Linked DNA regions of Homo sapiens. The protein of the gene in region 2 purifies or fractionates together with the protein of the main gene of each other region. This does not show direct contact. Each region holds a gene or a part of one and is shown on either strand. Other genes may lie near its edges.

Evidence for each region.
Region 1: the proteins of MKRN1 (region 2) and LARP4B purify together in Homo sapiens (affinity purification with mass spectrometry, with the first as the bait; one large-scale study listed by BioGRID). This does not show direct contact.

Annotation. Positions count from the first base shown.
Region 1 is NC_000010.11:925,206-928,705, forward strand, and holds part of LARP4B (la-related protein 4B), read right to left. Parts: intron 3,460-3,500; exon of another isoform or gene 1-3,459. UniProt on the Homo sapiens protein: Stimulates mRNA translation.
Region 2 is NC_000007.14:140,454,541-140,460,151, forward strand, and holds part of MKRN1 (E3 ubiquitin-protein ligase makorin-1), read right to left. Parts: intron 5,397-5,611; coding exon 5,167-5,396; intron 4,694-5,166; coding exon 4,467-4,693; intron 2,327-4,466; coding exon 2,112-2,326; coding exon of another isoform or gene 2,108-2,111; exon of another isoform or gene 1,675-2,107; intron 1,361-1,674; coding exon 1,250-1,360; intron 694-1,249; coding exon 555-693; intron 190-554; coding exon 1-189. UniProt on the Homo sapiens protein: E3 ubiquitin ligase catalyzing the covalent attachment of ubiquitin moieties onto substrate proteins. These substrates include FILIP1, p53/TP53, CDKN1A and TERT.

The DNA of each region.
Region 1 (3,500 bases), on a different chromosome or scaffold from region 2:
GCACTTTCCTATTCCTGCTGGATGACGGGCCTTACAGAAAAATCCTGTTGCCTTTCATCTTTGCATCCCTAGTGTTCAACTGGTCAGAACACCTGCCACAGGAAGAAAATGAACCCTTTTCTTACCGTAATCTCAGTGGCCCTCCTTTATGCCAGGCCCTTTAGCAATACTTAACAGAAAATAAAAAATGGAAAAACATCCACTAAAGTTTAAAAGATACATTTTCAATATTGCAATTGTTTCATTTTGGGTTAACATGATGTTTTTATTTTAAAGCAAAATAAAGGTAAGAAATTCTATGGCTATCTAAAAGGGGGCATTTATTTTATTTTATTTCATTTTTTTTCAGACAGAGCCTCACTCTGTCGCCCAGGCTGGAGTGCAGTGGTGTGATCTCAGATCACTGCAACCTCTGCCTCCCGGGTTTAAGCAATTCTCCCGCCTCAGCCTCCCAAGTAGCTGGGATTACGAGCACGCACCACCACGCCTGGCTAATTTTTGTATTTTTAGTACAGACAGGTTTTCACCATGTTGGCCAGGCTGGTCTCGAACTCCTAACCTCAGGTGATCCACCCGCCTCGGCCTCCCAGAGTGCTGGGATTACAGGCGTGAATCAAAGTGCCTGGCCGAAAGAGGGCACGTTTTTAAAGACTGAGAAACAGTATAATTTAAAGGTCATGTGGCTAAATTACTCTATCTGAAAATACTTTATGCGCTAAATGTAGCTATGAAAAGTCAGTTAAAAACTTGTAAATATAACTTTTATACTCTATAAGAAACTTTCTAATGTATGCTTTTTGAGTAAAGATTTTCCTATTTGTTTACAGAAATGTGCAAGTATACAATCAGCAAACAATTTCTCTGGAACACAGGTGGGAGATGTCTTTGAGCATTCTTATCTCTTTACTTGAATTACTTTCACTAAACATCTACAGTTTACCAGTCCCTGGGCTGGGCAGAGGTGACAAGCATAAAAAGAGAATCTCACTCACAAGGAGCTTACATTAATTATGTGCTAAGTAACACAAAGGTACACTTAGTTGCTACAGAAACAGAGAAGCATAATCTCAGAAGTTAATGCAAAGCAGTCTGGAGGACTCCTAAAATATCTTTTTAAGGATGGTTTAAGGAGCTAAGTAAATATTTTAAAAATTTTTTTAAAGGAGGTGGACATTCAATTTCAGTCAAAGAATCTACCAACAGCAATGGCTACAACGTTTGCAACACCAAGGTAGGAGAGGGAGGCGTGGTCCTGATTAAAAGGTGGGGCAGGGCAAGAAGGAAGACACAGAAGTGGAAGCACACACAGGGCGAGGCCTAGGGCAGTCCTGATGAGTTTCTGAAAAGAGGCCAGCCATCAGGCTATGCCACACTCTGGCTACAGTGCGACTAAAATGATTTGTGTAAATAAAAGAGCATTTTATTGGGCAAATTTATGCACATCAGACTTCATAAAGAACACTTTCAGCAAAGATCAAGTCTCATCTCTATGATTATCATACTCCCCCTAAAAAACTAAGCAGTACGCTTTCAAATTTGTGTTAAACATGGCCGGGCGCAGTGGCTCACGCCTGTAATCCCAGCACTCTGGGAGGCCAAGGCAGATGGGTCACTTGAGGTCAGAAGTTCAAGACCAGCCTGGCCAACACAGTGAAACCCAATTTGTACTAAAGTACAAAAATTAGCCGGGCGTGGTGGCACGCACCTGTATGTAGTCCCAGCTACTCAGGAGGCTGAGGCAGGGGAATCGCTTAAACCCTGGAGGCAGAGGTTGCAGTGAGCCGTGATCGTGCCAGTGCGCTCCAGCCTGGGCAACAGAACGAGACTCGGTCTCAAAAAAAAAAAAAAAAATTGTGTTAAACATGAAATACTTTCAATATTGCAATGTACTCCATGGTCTAGGTCTCCTAACCAGGGCAATGGGGTTGATGGGAAAGAAGATGTAAAACCAGTAGCATCACTGAACTGCAAATCCTTTATGGTTGAAATAGGAGCCATGACAGCTTCACCAGAAAAACTATGAGAAGACAGAGTTTATAAAGGCATTGAAGGGACAAAAGGTATTAAGGTATGGGGTGGCGGGGGGGCAGTGAGAAAGAGAAGGGAAGGAAACACAGCTGAGTTAATAATTTTCCTTGTTCCTAAGGAAGGCATTTACACACAGGAAAAACAAAGCATTAGAACGTTAGGGGAAAAAACTTTCAAGTTGGAATTTATCTCCCTTCTTTTGAGAACCTAGCAGTTTTCTACCTTACAATTCCATGTTCTAAAAAAGGAATTCATTTTCCAATCAAAATAACTCTAGAAGTAGAGTAGTTACAAAGATATCAACCAGCATAAGAGCAAAAAGTTTAAACTGAACTAAACTCAGACCTGATGAGGTTAACTCTCTGAGTGCCTCATTTACTTCGTACTCTAAAATAAGCTTTTACAGAAAAAGGAGAACTCTTCACATCAATAAAGTTCTACAAAAGAGCATAAGCAAGGAAACCCTTACAGCAGTGTCTGTTTTTAACAAGGTATTTTCCAAAAACATGACTTCAGTGTTCATGTCTTCTCCCCATTGGAAAAAGGTTGTTTTGAGAATTTTGTAGAAGAAATTACAAGAATATACTCCAAGATTTTTGTGCAATTTATCAATCTGAAAAGAATATCCCTAAATCTGACAGAATCTATAAGAGTACTGTATGCATGATAAAAGCATATTTAAAACTTGTACCTTTGGCCAGGTACGCCGTGGCTCACGCCTGCAATCCCAGCACTTTGGGAGGCCGAGGCGGGCGAATCACCTGCGGTCAGGAGTTCAAGACCAGCCTGGCCAACATGGTGAAATCCCAACTCTACTAAAAATACAAAAAAAAAAAAAATTAGCCAGGTGTGGTGGAGGGCACCTGTAATCCCAGCTACTCGGGAGGCTGAGGCAGGAGAATCACCTGAACCCGAGAGGCGGAGGATGCAGTGAGCCAAGAACGCACCATTGCACTCCAGCTTGGGCGACAAGAGTGAAAGTCCGCCTCAGGAAAGAAAAAAAAAAAAAAACTTGTACCTTTAACACTAGGATAAAAACAAATGAAATCGATTGATGGTAACACATCTATACAGCTTTTTTACAACTTTGAGAGGCCCTAACATAGACAACACGTTACTAAGATTAGAAGACCTAGATTATAATCCTAGCTATCACTATTTTGACGGAAAATATGAATTTTAACATGACAATGAAATAACAGTGAAAGGAGTTTGTCAGCCACTCCTTGGCTGGTAACATCTACCATAGCCTATCACTACAAAAACTTGCAAATCTATGTAGAGTAGCTGCAGCTACCTGAAGGCACTGTTCATTGTAAACACCATTAACAATTTGATGTCCCAATTTGCATGTTTTGGGGGTGGGGGGAGACAAGGTCTCACTGTTGTCCAGGATGGAGTGCAGTGGCAGGATCATGGCTCACTGCAGCCTCAACCTCCCAAGCTCAAGCGATCTTCCCACTTCAGCTTCT
Region 2 (5,611 bases):
TTCCAGCTCATCATGAAACAAGTCCCACTCATCTTCAGAGTCTGTTAGTTCGTCGTCCCCACCTGCAGCCAAAAGCATAAGCAACATCTCGCCCAGCTCAAAGGTGACAACCTCTTCTTCATCGTTGTCAAAGGGGTTGCTGTTCTCTCTTTCCTCAATGAGTTCCCAGAAGTGGTTCCTTCGTTGGGCCTGTAAAAAACAAGGCCATGATAGGGATGGCACTGTCGAGCAGTATCTTCTATCCTGTTGTTTATAAGGCAAAACGTCCAGCACACCAGAGGGCATGACGAACCAGACTTCTTAGTTAGGGTTTCCATTTACCACTTCCTCCCCTCTGGTTACTTCATGGAAATCGTTTAGGCTAGAGCTTTAACACACATTTTTTCTTCCTTTCCTATCCCTCCCAGTTTTCTGAGGTTTGTTTCCTCCTTTAATACTCTACACTTTCGCTCCCAGACCTGAGCGTTAACCTTCTCCTTCCCCTACCCCAATATGTGCAGGACTCAACTGATACCTTGGAATTTCCCCTCCTTTAAAAAAACAGTGAGAGTTACCCGGTATCTGCTTGATGTTCCCACTTTCTGTCTCTGTGGCTCCTCTCTACGGCCATCAGGGTACGCATGCTTGTAAAAACAGTTCCCTCCAAATGGGCAGCTCCCACGTCCTTCATCAAAATACCTGCACGCCTTGTTGCTGGAAAGGAAAATATCGCAACCCTTATTCACAGTGGATTTCAGGTCTGTATTTGACTATCATCCGGGGTTTCTTTAAACAGGTAGGGATAGAACCAGTATGTCAGCTTACAGCCCTCCCCAAGATGTGTTCTTATAAACATGTGTGTGCCAATGCAAGAAACACTAACTAGAAACCGGTAACTCTGTTCAAGTCTATGCTGGTTAATAGCTCTAGTACAAGCAGATGCCATAGAGAGAAAATCTTCTAGAAAGCCAACACATGAGAACATAGGACAGCTATGACACGGATTCAGAATAAGGTAGAACCCCACTCATGGGGCCTTACTTGTCAACAGTAGAGACCTCTTTATAACACAGTCCCTTGGCATGGACCCCAAGGACTGTGTTATAGCAAGATATATACTGGATGTTATCAGGGTGACAAAATAAACTGTCCTGGGAAGTCAAAGAAGGGTAGGAAGGAGGTAGGAGTGTATAATGCAGCACCATTCTTTTCAAAGTGAACCCAAGCTCTGTTGGGCTCTTCGCTTGAGAAAAGGCTGCAGTGCTCATACCTCATTGCCTCCTTGTATTTCAGAATGAGTTTCTGCTTCTCTTCTTTCTCCTCCACCCAGTACTCACTTGGAATGACAAAGTTAGATGTGATCCGGCATTCTGGGCAGGACCTGGGAAACAATGAACAGGCTGCAATGCAAATTCCCCTTTTACAGGCCCACTCTTCAAGGACACACCCTGGTGTGTCGCCTCCAGACTTAAAGACTTAACTGAAAGGCACGTGGGCATTTCCTGAAAGGGTTCCACATACTGTCACACAACTGACCATTTCTTTCAAGCAAGGCAACCTCCTTTATAAATCCAACTCAAGGGCTAGCCAGTTCTTTTTTTTTTTTTTTGAAAAATATAACTTAGGTAAAAAACAAAAACAAAAGAAGACATTTCACACAGACTCCTTTTTCTTTCGTTTAAATAAATTTATTTCTTGTAGCTTTGCTCTGTTTAGATTATGTGGTTTTTGTTCAGTTATGAGAACAATCTTTAAAGGATGGTGGATTGTTGGCTAGCTTAATGAATGGAATAGGAAAGTGGAAATGTAAAACGTCAGGAAACATACATTCAGAGCTAGATCAGTTTGTTCACTGAGCCTAAACTGGCTAATAATCCATTAAACACAATCTCCTCAGAAAAAGCACGAAGATTCTAACTGATACACAGGGTTTCCTCATTCAAATAAAAGTAGATAGACCAACTAACCTAGAAGCTAGCTGAAATACAAAGAAGAAATCCCCATTAGAATATCCCAGTTTCAAGATAAAATGCATGCATTTAAATGCGGTCCATCTGGTTGAAAGTTGGCACAAGTTACTAAATTCTTCCCCAAAAGAGAAAGCACAAATGAAGACTGGGGAGGAGTCTCACTTTATGATCTTGCTCTCAAATTGCTTAGCACTCCTCCACTTGCGAATGCACTTGAGACAGTAGGTGTGGTTGCAGTTGGAGAGGATCCCGAAGCGGCGCTCACTGGGGTTGGCTTTCTCATAGACCACCTCCATGCAGATCCCACACACCATGTCCTTGCTGCGCTGCACGGCAAATGAGAGCTCCATGTCCTTCTCATGGGCCTCAATGCACGACTAGAGAAGGTGGAGAGAGAACAAGTGGAATCCAGTCATTGAACCCTGAAAAACTTGAGCAACAGTTAATGATTCACAGTCAAAGAATCAAATAGTCAACTGAAAAAACAATGTTCCCAAGCTGACACGAAAATTAGCTTTGCTGACAAGTAAACACAGGTGTGGTGTTTTTTTTTTGTTTGTTTGTTTTTGCGGTGGTACTTAACAATACTAGAAAATCAAACTATGAGGACTCAACTTCGGGAACTGAAAAATTACCCAATTTTCTCTACCCCAAACCTGGAGCTCAACTACATTAAAGACGGTTTTCCATACTGTTTGTTATTTCTGGTTTCTACATGAGGTTAAGACCCTAGTTAAAACCTGTCGGAAAATAAGGGTGACAGGCACGTAAACTCTCTTATGCCTTTAAAGAAAAACAACTTCATCGAGATTTTTCAACTACTCAGCTTGATAGACTGATGCACACTTAGGTTAGGTTAGATTAGCCCACTTTGGGGCTATTATAAATAATGCTGCCAAGAACATTCATGTACCAATTTTTGTGTGGACATCATATTTTAACTTATAAAAAACATGATTATAGGAAACATAAAAATGCAGAAAACTCCCAGCACTTTGGAAGGCCAAGGTTGGGTGGATCACATGAGGCCTGGAGTTCGAGACCAGCCTGGTCAACATGGCGAAACCCCATCTCTACTAAAAATACAAAACTGAGGCAGGCGTGGTGGTGCATGCCTGTAGTCCCAGCTATTCGGGAGGCAGAGGCTGCAGTGAGCCGAGACTGCACTGCTACACTCCAGCCTGGGGGACAAAGCAAGACTCTGTCTCAAAAAAAAATAAAAATAAAAAAAATAACACTGCAGAAGAGCAATGTCATCCATAATCTCACATCATCACTAAACATGTCTTTTCCTAAACCTTTAAAAGAAAAAACATATATACATATATTCAGAGGTAGGTTCTACTACCTCAATATATAGATATAACGTATAGAGATTTATCCTGCCTAAATTCACAAAAGTACGCTGAAGATAGGGATCAAATTATGTCTACCTTATAACATGCCTCACACCCTAAAACCACATTTAAAAAGATGGAAATTTAAAAGAGATGGAAATGATTAGAAGCAAACTTTGCTCCAATAAAGTTAAAGTTTCTAACACAATGTCTTCTGAACCTACCCTGGCTCCCATACACTGCTGCTGGAAATGTAAAATCCTGCAGCCACTGTGGAAAAGTATGGCAGTTCATCAAAACGTAAAGCAGAGTTCCTATGTAACCCAGCAATTCCACTCCTAGGTAACGGAAAACATATCTTCACAGAAAAACCTATATACAAATGTTCCTAGCAGCCTTATTCATAATAGCCAAAAACTGGAAATGATCTAAGTGTCCATCAACTCATGAATGGAAAAACAAATGTGGTCTAGCCATACAAAGACAATAATTCAGCCATCAAAACTAAGAACGGCTACACGCAACCACACAAAGAACCTTGAAAACACTATGTTAAGTGAAAGAAGTGAAGTCAATCACAAAGGACCACATTACAGGATTCCATTTACATGAAATGTCCACAATAGGCCAATCCAGAGACAAAGCAGATTCGTTATTGCCAGGAGCTGGAGGAAGGCTGGAATAAAGAGTGACTGCTAATGGGTGTAGGATGATCAAATTATCCTAAAATTAGTAAAATGGTAATGGTTGCACATCTCTGTAAATATACTAAAAACCAATGAAATGTGCATTTTCAAAAGATTAAACATATTCAATGTGAATCTCAGAAACATTATTTTTTAAAAGAGGAAAAAAATGTTAGAAGTCTATAGTCTGAGTTTCTGGAAGTAGGACTTCTTTTTTTCTTTTGCCTCAACCTCCTGGGCTTGAGCGATCCTCTTGCCTCAGCCTAACAAGTAGCTGGGACTATAGACACATGCCTCCATGCCCAGTTAATTTTGTTCACTGGAAATATGACTTCTTGATAAAGCATCCAAGAAGCCCAAGAAAGGAAAACTTCCCTACTCACTGATAACCATTCAATTCATCAAATGTTTCTCTGAAATAAACCCACAATGCTGTGAAAGGGCAAATAATGATTCTCACATCTAATAACACACACATCTCCCTAAAGACTTACTTTGATATGCTGCGATCTCTGGGCAGCATCCATTGGATGCAGGACCTGCAGCCCACACATGTCACAAGAATCTCCGTGGAGATACACACAGTTCTCCCCGTATCGGCACTCTCCCACTGCAGCATAGGGGCACAGCTGCTTCTTTGTCTCCACGGCGGTTTGCTCTTTCTCTGATTCTTCCTTGGTCACTGAGCCCTGCAGGGGTGCTTCAGTGCAGGAAGGCGCAGCTGAAAATGTGTAAGAGGGTGGTAAAGGTCCAAATAGATAAGGCATGAACTATAAGAGAACTGAGAATCTAACCGCAAAAAATGAAAATAAAACTGCAATGAAATACCAAAACAGTCTACTGAACTAACTTCTTCACTTGAAAGAAAGGAATTTTTTCTACCGCTGTTATTTCCAAGATTAGACTTGTAAAAAAAAAAAATTGCTTCTTTATCTATGTCTTGGGTAACTGAAATTTAATTTCAAAAAGTACTCGAAAGGATTCAGTTTTTCAAAACATTCTGAATTCATTTCACTGGGATTAAAAATTTCCTTCACTCTATCTGTAAATCTTAGGTAATCCAAATTAAAGTACTGTACTAAGATTAAACTAAAAAAGGAATAGAAGCAGAAAGGGGAAAGTTGTCAAAACTAAGCAAATGGATGAACTGCTATCCAGCCCTCTAACTCTTATTTTCTTCTTCAGAATACTTACTACGGCCACAGTAGGGTTGCCCAGGAACAAACTCAATAGCATTCACCCAGTCCTCTGAACCTGCTCCTACAGTTGCAAAGTTTGAATTTCTTGACTCAGCTTCGCCTGTATTCATTTCAACAAGTGGTCCAACTATCGATGAGAGACTTGAGGAAGCAGCAAGGGATGACTTTGTAGTTAGCTCTGTAGCAGTTGCTTCTTCCTGTTTCAATGGTTTGCTATGTTCATATCTAAGAAAAAATTCAAAAGTAAGCAGTCGGCCAGTCGTGGTGGCTCAAGCCTGTAATCCCAACAGTTTGGGAAGCTGAGGTGGGTGGATCACCAGAGAGGTTGGGAGTTCGAGACCAGCCTGGCCAATGTGGTGAAAACCCGTCACTACCAAAAACGCAAAAATTAGCTGGGCATGGTGGCGCACCTGTAATCCCAACTACTCGGGAGGCTGAGG